Linked DNA regions of Homo sapiens. The protein of the gene in region 1 purifies or fractionates together with the protein of each later gene. This does not show direct contact. Each region holds a gene or a part of one and is shown on either strand. Other genes may lie near its edges.

Region 1 (5,175 bases):
CCCCTAAGAGATCACACCTTGCAAATATCAAACTCTGAGTCTTAAGGTTACCGTTCATTAATTCATCCATTCTTTCATTCTAGAAACATTGATACAGTGATAGATTAGGTAGTTTCTTACCTCTATTGGAAGTTAAAGTCTAGTACTTTGAAGGTGTTTAATAAATATTATATTGCAGTATCCAGTAAGAAATATTCAAAAGTTTGCTTAATGTGTCAGAGTAATTGCGTAAATATTGTACTCTGGCATTAGACATATGTTTCTAGTTGAAACCAGTTACCAGACATTAATCTTGGCTATAAAACAAGAAAATATATGGACTCTTGAAAATTTCTATTAAAGATAATCTTACTCTTTCTTATAACTTACGTTATTTGCATGTAATCATATACCATTTGTTTTACTTTTGGTCTTCAGGGTCTTTATGCTTCTTGAATAGTCAATAGATGAGGTATTAGGCTCAAACACTATACTTTGAAATGAAATATAAGTTATCTGTTTTTGTAGAATCAATATCTGAGCACTTCTACATTCTGTAGATAGTTATAGCAAAACCTTTTAATTCCTTTTCATCTAATAAAATTTGTGCCCCACAAAATCTATCTAAGGATAATAGAAGTAGTTCTAGACTTGAGAGAGTTCCAATCTCTTATAAGCTTTTTTTATTTGTAAAATGGAGAGATGGTAAAATCTAAGCAGATTTTATCCTTATATACAGTATTGTCATTCCCTTCATATCCCTGATAAATGGTTATAAAAATTGTGGCAGAGATCAGACTGTCCGTTCCTCTTGTGGATTGTTGAAATTATTAGATCTTAGTACTGCCCTCTAAAACTTGATTAGAAGACTGATTGCTCTTCAGTGTAGCCCTTGGTTTAAAGATAGTCGTGTCTCATCAAAATTTCTGTTTTGTTTTATTTTTTCGTAGTATAAATGTATACTAGTTTACTGTATAATTCTTTATCTTTATTAATTTATCTAGCATTTACTGCTTTTTGGTAGTGAGTTGGATGCCAGATATTTTAATAGACAGTATATTGGAGAGGACTGTGTTTGAATCCTTGCTTTGTTTCTTTTTAGCTCTATGATTTGGGCAGTTTACTTAATCTGAACCCTTATTTTCCCTGCTATGAAAAAAATGGAGCTATTAAATATGTAACTACCTAAATTATATTAAGTATTAAATAATGTAATATATGTAAAACATTTAGCTAAGTACCTAGTGCATAGGAGGCCCTCTCAGTGTGTGTTTGTTAGATGGCGAAAATCACAAAAAGCATGTTAGCAGGTCCAGTATAGGTAAAACATAGCATGCTTGGGAGGAGCGAAGGAAACATTGAAGCCAAGAGAGAAAGGACTTTAAAGGTGAAAGAGATTTGTCAGCAGTGGCTCAGACTGTAGAAAGGCCCAGTAGGATGGGGATTCAAAAGAGAGCTTCAGATTTGACAATTAGTAAATAGTAATCCGTTACCTTCCTTTTTAATGTCATTATTGTGTCCTTATTAAACAAACTTTCCCTGATTATCCATACTTCTCCAAGACAGCATTATGACCATCTCTTCTCCCCTTACTTTGTTCTACCTTCATTGTGGTTATCACCATGTAACATTTTATATATTAGTTTTTATTCATTTTTTCCCTGTTAGATCAGTGAAAGCTCTATAAGATCAGAGTATTTGTTTTTTATCATCCTTATACTCCTACCTCCTAGAACAGTTTCTGCCTCATGCTAGGTGCTCAACAAATACTTATTGAATCAAGGAATGAATGTATTTCTTTCTTTCTTTCTTTCTTTCTTTTTTTTTTTTTGATACGGAGTTTCGCTTTTGTTGCCCAGGCTGGAGTGCAGTGGCATGATCTGGGCTCACCACAACCTCCGCCTTCTGGGTTCAAGCGATTCTCCTCCCTCAGCCTCCGGAGTAGCTGGGATTACAGGCATGTGCCACCAAGCCTAGTTAATTTTGTATTTTTAGTAGAGATGGGGTTTCTGCATGTTGGTCAGGCTGATCTCGAACTCCTGACCTCAGGTGGTCTGCCTGCCTCGACGTCCCAAAGTGCTGGGATTACAGGTGTGAGCCAACGCACTCGGCGGAATGGATGTATTTCAATATAGTGCTTGGCCTGATAATGTCTCCCTGCAGTTCAGACAGTGAGTGAATGAGAGGCAGAGAAGGACTAAGCAGAAAATGTAAGTTAGTGTTTCAAAAAATGTGCTCATCAGGACATTGGTGGAGAACATTGGTTTTGGGAGTACAAAGGATTTCTGATAAAATAAATTTGGGCAAATAACAACATACTAAGCTTCTTTTTTTAAGACTAAGGGAGTTCTGCTCTAAGAGAACCCATTTAACTTAGGTTAATGTACCATTTTCCAAACATTTGGCCATGTAGCAAGGGATTCGTGGATAATTCCTAGTATAAATGATGGGTCATGTTCAGACTGGGTAGGAAAGGACATGCAGCCAGGAATGAACTTATTAAGAAAAGCAAGTCACTCTGAGATCAAGATAGTAACTTAGAGAAAGGTAGGAGGTAGAATTCTATGGTTAAAGAGGAAACTTGAGTGTTTTAAAGTCCAGAGTTGGTTGTTTTGGCAGTAGTTTTGCTGAACTAGAGTGTAGGTGACTAAAATGCTGTGAAGGATGAAGGTTGTGTGTTGAGTCGGGTAGGCATTGACTAGGTTAAGACAAAAACTCTTCTAGGATGAGCTGAAAAGGGTAAATCTTCTGAGACACTGGATAATATTGATCTGAAAGTAATTCGATTTTGGAAAGGATATTGGGAAGAAAGTGATATAACATATTTAGTGCTTCAGAAGAAAGATTTGTTGAGTGTTAAAGGAGTCAAATGAACGGTGATAGAATATAAGACTTACCAGCAGTGAGGAGATGGACATGCCACAAGGGAGGCCAGAACTGTTCTTAATTTCCAAGATTTCTTTGAAAATGTTCTCTCATAGTTCTTAAATGTATGCATTTTAAAATGTCACAACTATTTGAAATAAAATCTTTATTTCTCATCACTTATAGTGTTAGATAAAGATACCATTTCAAGTCTTACCATCATGCAGGTTTTGAAGTTGCAAAACATAAGCAACTCATAACAGAATCAACAGTGTGTGCCAGATAGATTTTGTAAGGAGAGATTGGCTTCTTAAAAGTTCTAGAATATTAAAGTACTTTATTGACTTGGTTGTATCCATCACCTTGAGTGCTTATTTCAACAGTATTTGCTCTCTGATATAATATTCACCAATAATCACCCCTCTGAATATCATCTTTCTCTTGTATTTTTATAAGCTGCAAAATTTGCTAGTTTTTGCCACTTAGGAAAGGTTAGTGGAGATTGCCTGCATGCCTTGGAAAGTAATATTTTTTATTTCTGTAGGTTATGAAACATTTTTATATGTAATAATTGATCCTCTGAAATTTTAAAGTAAATTGAGCAGATATTAGCCTCATTTAACTGTTGTTAAACTGAGTCTGCCTATATGATTATCATATATTTCTTTCTAATTCATGTCTTAAAGGCTTCTCTAACAAGGAGTTCTTTGCTGTAGGTCCTTTCAGGTTCTCAGTTCTCTGTGTAGATAAGTGGAAGTTATTTCCTTAATGTGGTGTACACTACCTGAAGCATTCGTTCTACCATCTGCAGTTGGTTTAATCATTCTTATATATAAACTTTATTTAAAAAGTCAGTAAGAAAGATGTCTTCCATGTACTTTTCTTGCTAATGTAGTCTTAAGGTAGATTTTGTTAAATTACCGTACGTTACAGATAAAAAGGGACCGTATGTCATTTAACTTAACTTCCTTATTTTATGTAAGGAAATCTAAACCTTAGAGAGCTTAAGTATCTTGCCTGAGGACTCATAGTTCTCAGTGACAGAGCTGGGGACTTGAAGTTAGATAATGTAAGACAAATTCCAGTGCTTTTTCAACTATACTGTCATGTCTTTTAATGAATTTAATTAGAGCAAAATGTGGCTTTTGACTCTGAGGCCTAAGGTATTTATCATGATCTGGGTAGAAGATTCTATTAATATTTTTTTAAAAATTATTTTAGTAATAAAATTTATATCCAGGCACATGATGATTATTTTAATTGAGAGAAAGGTACAGCCACTTTATTATTTAATTAGTTGTGTGTGTGAGGTCAGAATATTTTAACCCCTTGGTCCAATTAATCTTAATATAAGTATCATATGTATAAAATAACAATTCAAATAATACATGCGGTTTGCATAACTAGGTGATCTTAACCTTATAGCAGTATGCTTTCTATTATCTGGTGATAAAGAGAAAACGATTTTTTTTACCCTACACTCTGCAGATCAACTCAGTATGTCACTTAACTGATCACCAGCAGTATTTCTTCATGCCTTGGAGATTAATAAGATAAATTTTGTTTTTAAGGTTTAGTAATTTACCGTAGAGATAACCTTTAAGATAAAAGAACATGACAAATTGATTTGGTTAAAATAATTACAAGAAAACTACATATTTCCAACTAATCAGCTTGGTTATCCTTAAATTATGACTTTTCTGTGTTTATTCTGGTCTTTTTGCCCACTGGTAACTCTTAAGCCCATTTTAATTGATAATTTTTCTTACTTCAAATTACAGTAAGAAATTTGTTTTACAGCAACTGACAACTTACCAATGAAACTAAAGAAAACATTATAATGTGAAGTTTCACAATTTAAACTACATAAATTATTTTTAATTTTTTTTTTAATTTTACTTTAAGTTCTGGGCTACATGTGCAGAACGTGCAGGCTTGTTATACAGGTATACATGTGCCATGGTGGTTTGCTGCACCCATCAACCTGTCATCTAGGTTTTAAGCCCCACATGCATTAGGTATTTGTCTTAATGCTCTCCCTCCTTTTGCCTCCCACCCCCTGACAGGCCCTGGAGTGTGATGTTCCCCTCCCTGTGTCCATGTGTTCTCATTGTTCAGCTCCCACTTATGAATAAGAACATGCGGTGTTTGATTTTCTGTTCCTGTGTTAGTTTGCTGAGAAAGATGGTTTCCAGCTTCATCCATGTCCCTGCAAAGGACATGAACTCATTCTTTTTTATGGCTGCATAGTATTCCATGGTAGACATGTGCCACATTTTGTTTATCCAGTCTATCATTGATGGGCATTTGGGTTGGTTCTAAGTCTTTGCT
Region 2 (3,835 bases), on another chromosome or scaffold:
TTTCCTATGCTATGAAAAACGGGAGATAACTATTCTATCTACTTGAGTTCCTGTTGAAAATTAGATGATTATATGTGATTGGTCTTTGTAAATTACAATGTGATAGACATGCATAATATACGTGGCTTAGTTATATTACTGTCTCCTAGAGAAATATAAGACATACTTTTTTTTTTGGTCAAGCTAACTTTATCTTGTTTTCTAGATTGTTATTTTGTGTCAGTAAGTAATCCATAAAGTGCCAACATGGGAAAGAAACGGACAAAGGGAAAAACTGTTCCAATCGATGATTCCTCTGAAACTTTAGGTATATTTCATTGATTGAATCTTTAATGTTTATATCTCTAAATGAATATGTTTTAAAATGTAAAAATGGTATAAAGCTGCATATTATTGTTATATTATCTGCATTTTAATATAATGTTTGTATCTATATGTCATTTAATAGTCTTCTACTTTTTTTTTTTTTTTTGAGAAAGAATCTCGCTCTGTTGCCCAGGCTGGAGTGCAGTGGTGCAATCTCAGCTCACTGCAACCTCCGCCTCCCAGGTTCAAACGGTTCTCTCGTGCCTCAGCCTCTGAGTAGCTGGGATTACAGACACATCCCACCACAGCCAGCTAATTTTTTTTTTTTTTTTTAATAGTGACGGGGTTTCCCTGTGTTGGTCAGGCTGGTCTTGAACTCCTGGCCTCAAGTGATCCGCCTGCCTTGGCCTCCAAAAGTGCTAGGATTACACGTGAGAGCCACTGCACCTGACTTTCTACATCTTTTTTGTTTTTTTTCCTGAGACGGAGTCTGGCTCTGTTGCCCAGGCTGGAGTGCAGTAGTGTGATCTCAGCTCACTGCAGCCTTTGCCTTGAGGGTTCAAGCGATTCTCCTGTCTCAGCCTCATGAGTAGCTGGGATTACAGGTGTGCTCCACCACACCCAGCTAATTTTTGTATTTTTAGTAGAGACAGGGTTTCACCATGTTGACCAGGCTGGTCTTGAACTCCTGACCTCAAGTGATCCGCTTCCTCAGCATCCCAAAGTGCTGGGATTACAGGCGTGAGCCACCGCGCCCGACCTTCAACAACATTTTTAATGGCATATTATTGCATTTAGCAAAGACCATGGATGTATATTTCATAATTTATTTAGATAATTTTCTACTGTTACAGATTTAGGTAATCTTTAACTTTTTAGTATTATGAATGGCTCAGTAGTAAACAACTTTATAGCTAAATCTCTCTGTACATCCAAATATTTTCCTAATACACATACATAATTTTTGAATCGAAGGGTGTAAACATTTTTAAGACTCTTTTGATCCTGTTGCTAAATTGCCATCCAGAAATGTTTTACTAATTTCCAGGCCCCCTATTAGCGTAGTAAAGTGCCCATTTCCCTGAACCTTCATCGGCACTGGTTAGTATCATCTGTAAACATCTGTGCTGATTTGGTAGTTAAAAAAGGTTACCTTCTGACCAGGTGTGGTGGCTCACGCCTGTAATCCCAGCACTCTGGGAGGCCAAGGCGGGCAGATCACGAGGTCAGGAGATCGAGACCATCCTGGCTAACACGGTGAAACCCCGTCTCTACTAAACATACAAAAAATTAGCTGGGCGTGGTGGCGGGCGCCTGTAGTCCCAGCTACTTGGGAGGCTGAGGCAGGAGAATGGCGTGAACCTGGGAGGCGGAGCTTGCAGTGAGCCGAGATTGTGCCACTGCACTCCAGCCTGGGCAACAGAGCAAGACTCCGTCTCAAAAAGAAAAAAGAAAAAAAAGGGTACCTTCTTTTTCTAGTTTGTATTTCTTTGACTACTGAGATTTGGTAGTTTTTCCACCTGATCCCATTTGCATTTATATTTCTTTTCTTGGTGCAAGATCATTGGACATAAAGCTAATTATGCCACTTGACTAGTTTCTAAACCTCCAGTGTTCCTGGAACAACTCAGCACTGTAGAGTGGTTTGCAAAGCTCTTTACTTATCTTGGCCCCAACAGAGTTTTCAGCCTCAGGTTCAACTGCTCATTTTTGCACATTGTGTAACTCCATCATCTGGGGAGACAGCATGCACTTTCACATGTTTTTGTTCTTGGCATGGGCATTTTCAGATTGCCCTTCACTCCCTGAGGTCGCAGTTTAAAGTGTGAGCTATGAAGTCTGAAAGACTTGAGTCTAAATTCTGGCATAGATACTCAGTAGTTATGTGGGTACTAAATCTTAGTTTTCTCATTTGTCATTGGGAATAATAGTGTCTTCTAGGGTGATTGTAAGGATTAAATGGGATAATGTATTCAAAACATTTAACAAAGTTCATAGGACATATTTAATTAATATCAGCAATTTTTATTACTATTATTATCTTCTAGGATTGCACAGATGTTACCTCCCCTGTGAAACTTTTGGTGACTTTAGCCTTCTCTGCTTGTGCTGCTATACCATGTTTCGGAGATTCTTATACATTAATTTATTTAGCTGCCTTTCCTTCCAGAATGTGAGCTACTCAAAGAAAACAGCTGTGACTTGGTCAATTTTGGGCTCCTGAGCGTCTAGCACAGTGCCTGCCCTATAGTAGGTGTATTATTGACTAAATGAAGGACGTTTTCTACAAATCTTTAAAGATAAAGAGAATCATAAGTATGATAAAGGGCCTTAATTTAAAGGAAATAGCCAAATAAATTGAAATGAATTTGTAGTGGGGGACAGTGGTGGTTATATTTAGGACTTCAAGAAAGCGAAACTTCACAAATTTGTGTCAAATCTCTTTCTCACATATTTATCTCATATTATTCAAATATCAAACAATTTTAAGTTCAGAATATCTTAACAGTTTATAGAGTAAATTTCATTTTTGAAATGTGAATCGAGGGTAAGTTTTGAGATTAACTGAAGAAAGTCATTTTTGACCTTATATATTCCTTGTCTATTATTTGTTTTAATAGAACCTGTGTGCAGACACATTAGAAAAGGATTGGAACAAGGTAATTTGAAAAAGGCTTTAGTGAATGTGGAATGGAATATCTGCCAAGACTGTAAGACTGACAATAAAGTGAAAGATAAAGCTGAAGAAGAAACAGAAGAAAAGCCTTCAGTTTGGCTGTGTCTTAAATGTGGCCATCAGGTATGCTTACGTTTTAAGATCAATATGGGATTTTAGAAAACTCTTTGAACTTACTTTAGAAGGTATTACCTGAAAGTACAGTATGGATAAAAGGATACTAGTAACATAGATCATGTTCTCTGGAGAACCAGTTCTGAGATGTGTGTATAGGTGGTGGAGTGTTCTCTGGTACCACACCAGTAAAAGTAAGGGAAGCAAGATTAAGCATAGGGAGAAGTTGAATGAAGAGGCAGTGGCAACAGGGTCTCAGCCAATCCCACAGTGATCTCTTGCCTGAATTGAGGCAAGGAGCTAGACCTTTCTACCTGTGCATAGACCAGTCATTGGATGTGGCCTGCCCCTAGAGCAGGAAGTAACCTTGGGCAAGGCAGCTCCCTTTTGTTGAGACTGATTCCTGGGGATGGATGGACTAGACTGTGAGCTCTCAGCCGGCCACATTCTCAGCACCTGGGGGAATGAGTAGTACCTTGATCTTTGGCAGTGAGGGCATGTCTGGCTGGCACATCACAGTATCTACTCTACCAGCTCACAGTTATTACCGTGGTACTAAAGTCAGGGTCTCTCAGTTACCCTTAGTGGTGGCAAGTTAAGCTTATATGTTAGGAAATTGGGCTACTAGGCAGTAGTCATGAAGTCATGAGGCTTCAAGATCAGGCAGATAGCCAGTTTTTTGTTGTTTTTTTGAGATGGGGTCTCACTCTGTCACCCAGGCTGGAGTGCAGTGGCACA

What was found. The genes of interacting proteins can lie anywhere in the genome.
Region 2: the proteins of ZC2HC1A (region 1) and USP16 fractionate together in Homo sapiens (co-fractionation; one large-scale study listed by BioGRID). This does not show direct contact.

Annotation. Positions count from the first base shown.
Region 1 is NC_000008.11:78,668,175-78,673,349, forward strand, and holds part of ZC2HC1A (zinc finger C2HC domain-containing protein 1A), read left to right. Parts: intron 1-5,175.
Region 2 is NC_000021.9:29,027,668-29,031,502, forward strand, and holds part of USP16 (ubiquitin carboxyl-terminal hydrolase 16), read left to right. Parts: intron 1-205; 5' UTR 206-246; coding exon 247-307; intron 308-2,927; coding exon 2,928-3,106; intron 3,107-3,835. UniProt on the Homo sapiens protein: Specifically deubiquitinates 'Lys-120' of histone H2A (H2AK119Ub), a specific tag for epigenetic transcriptional repression, thereby acting as a coactivator.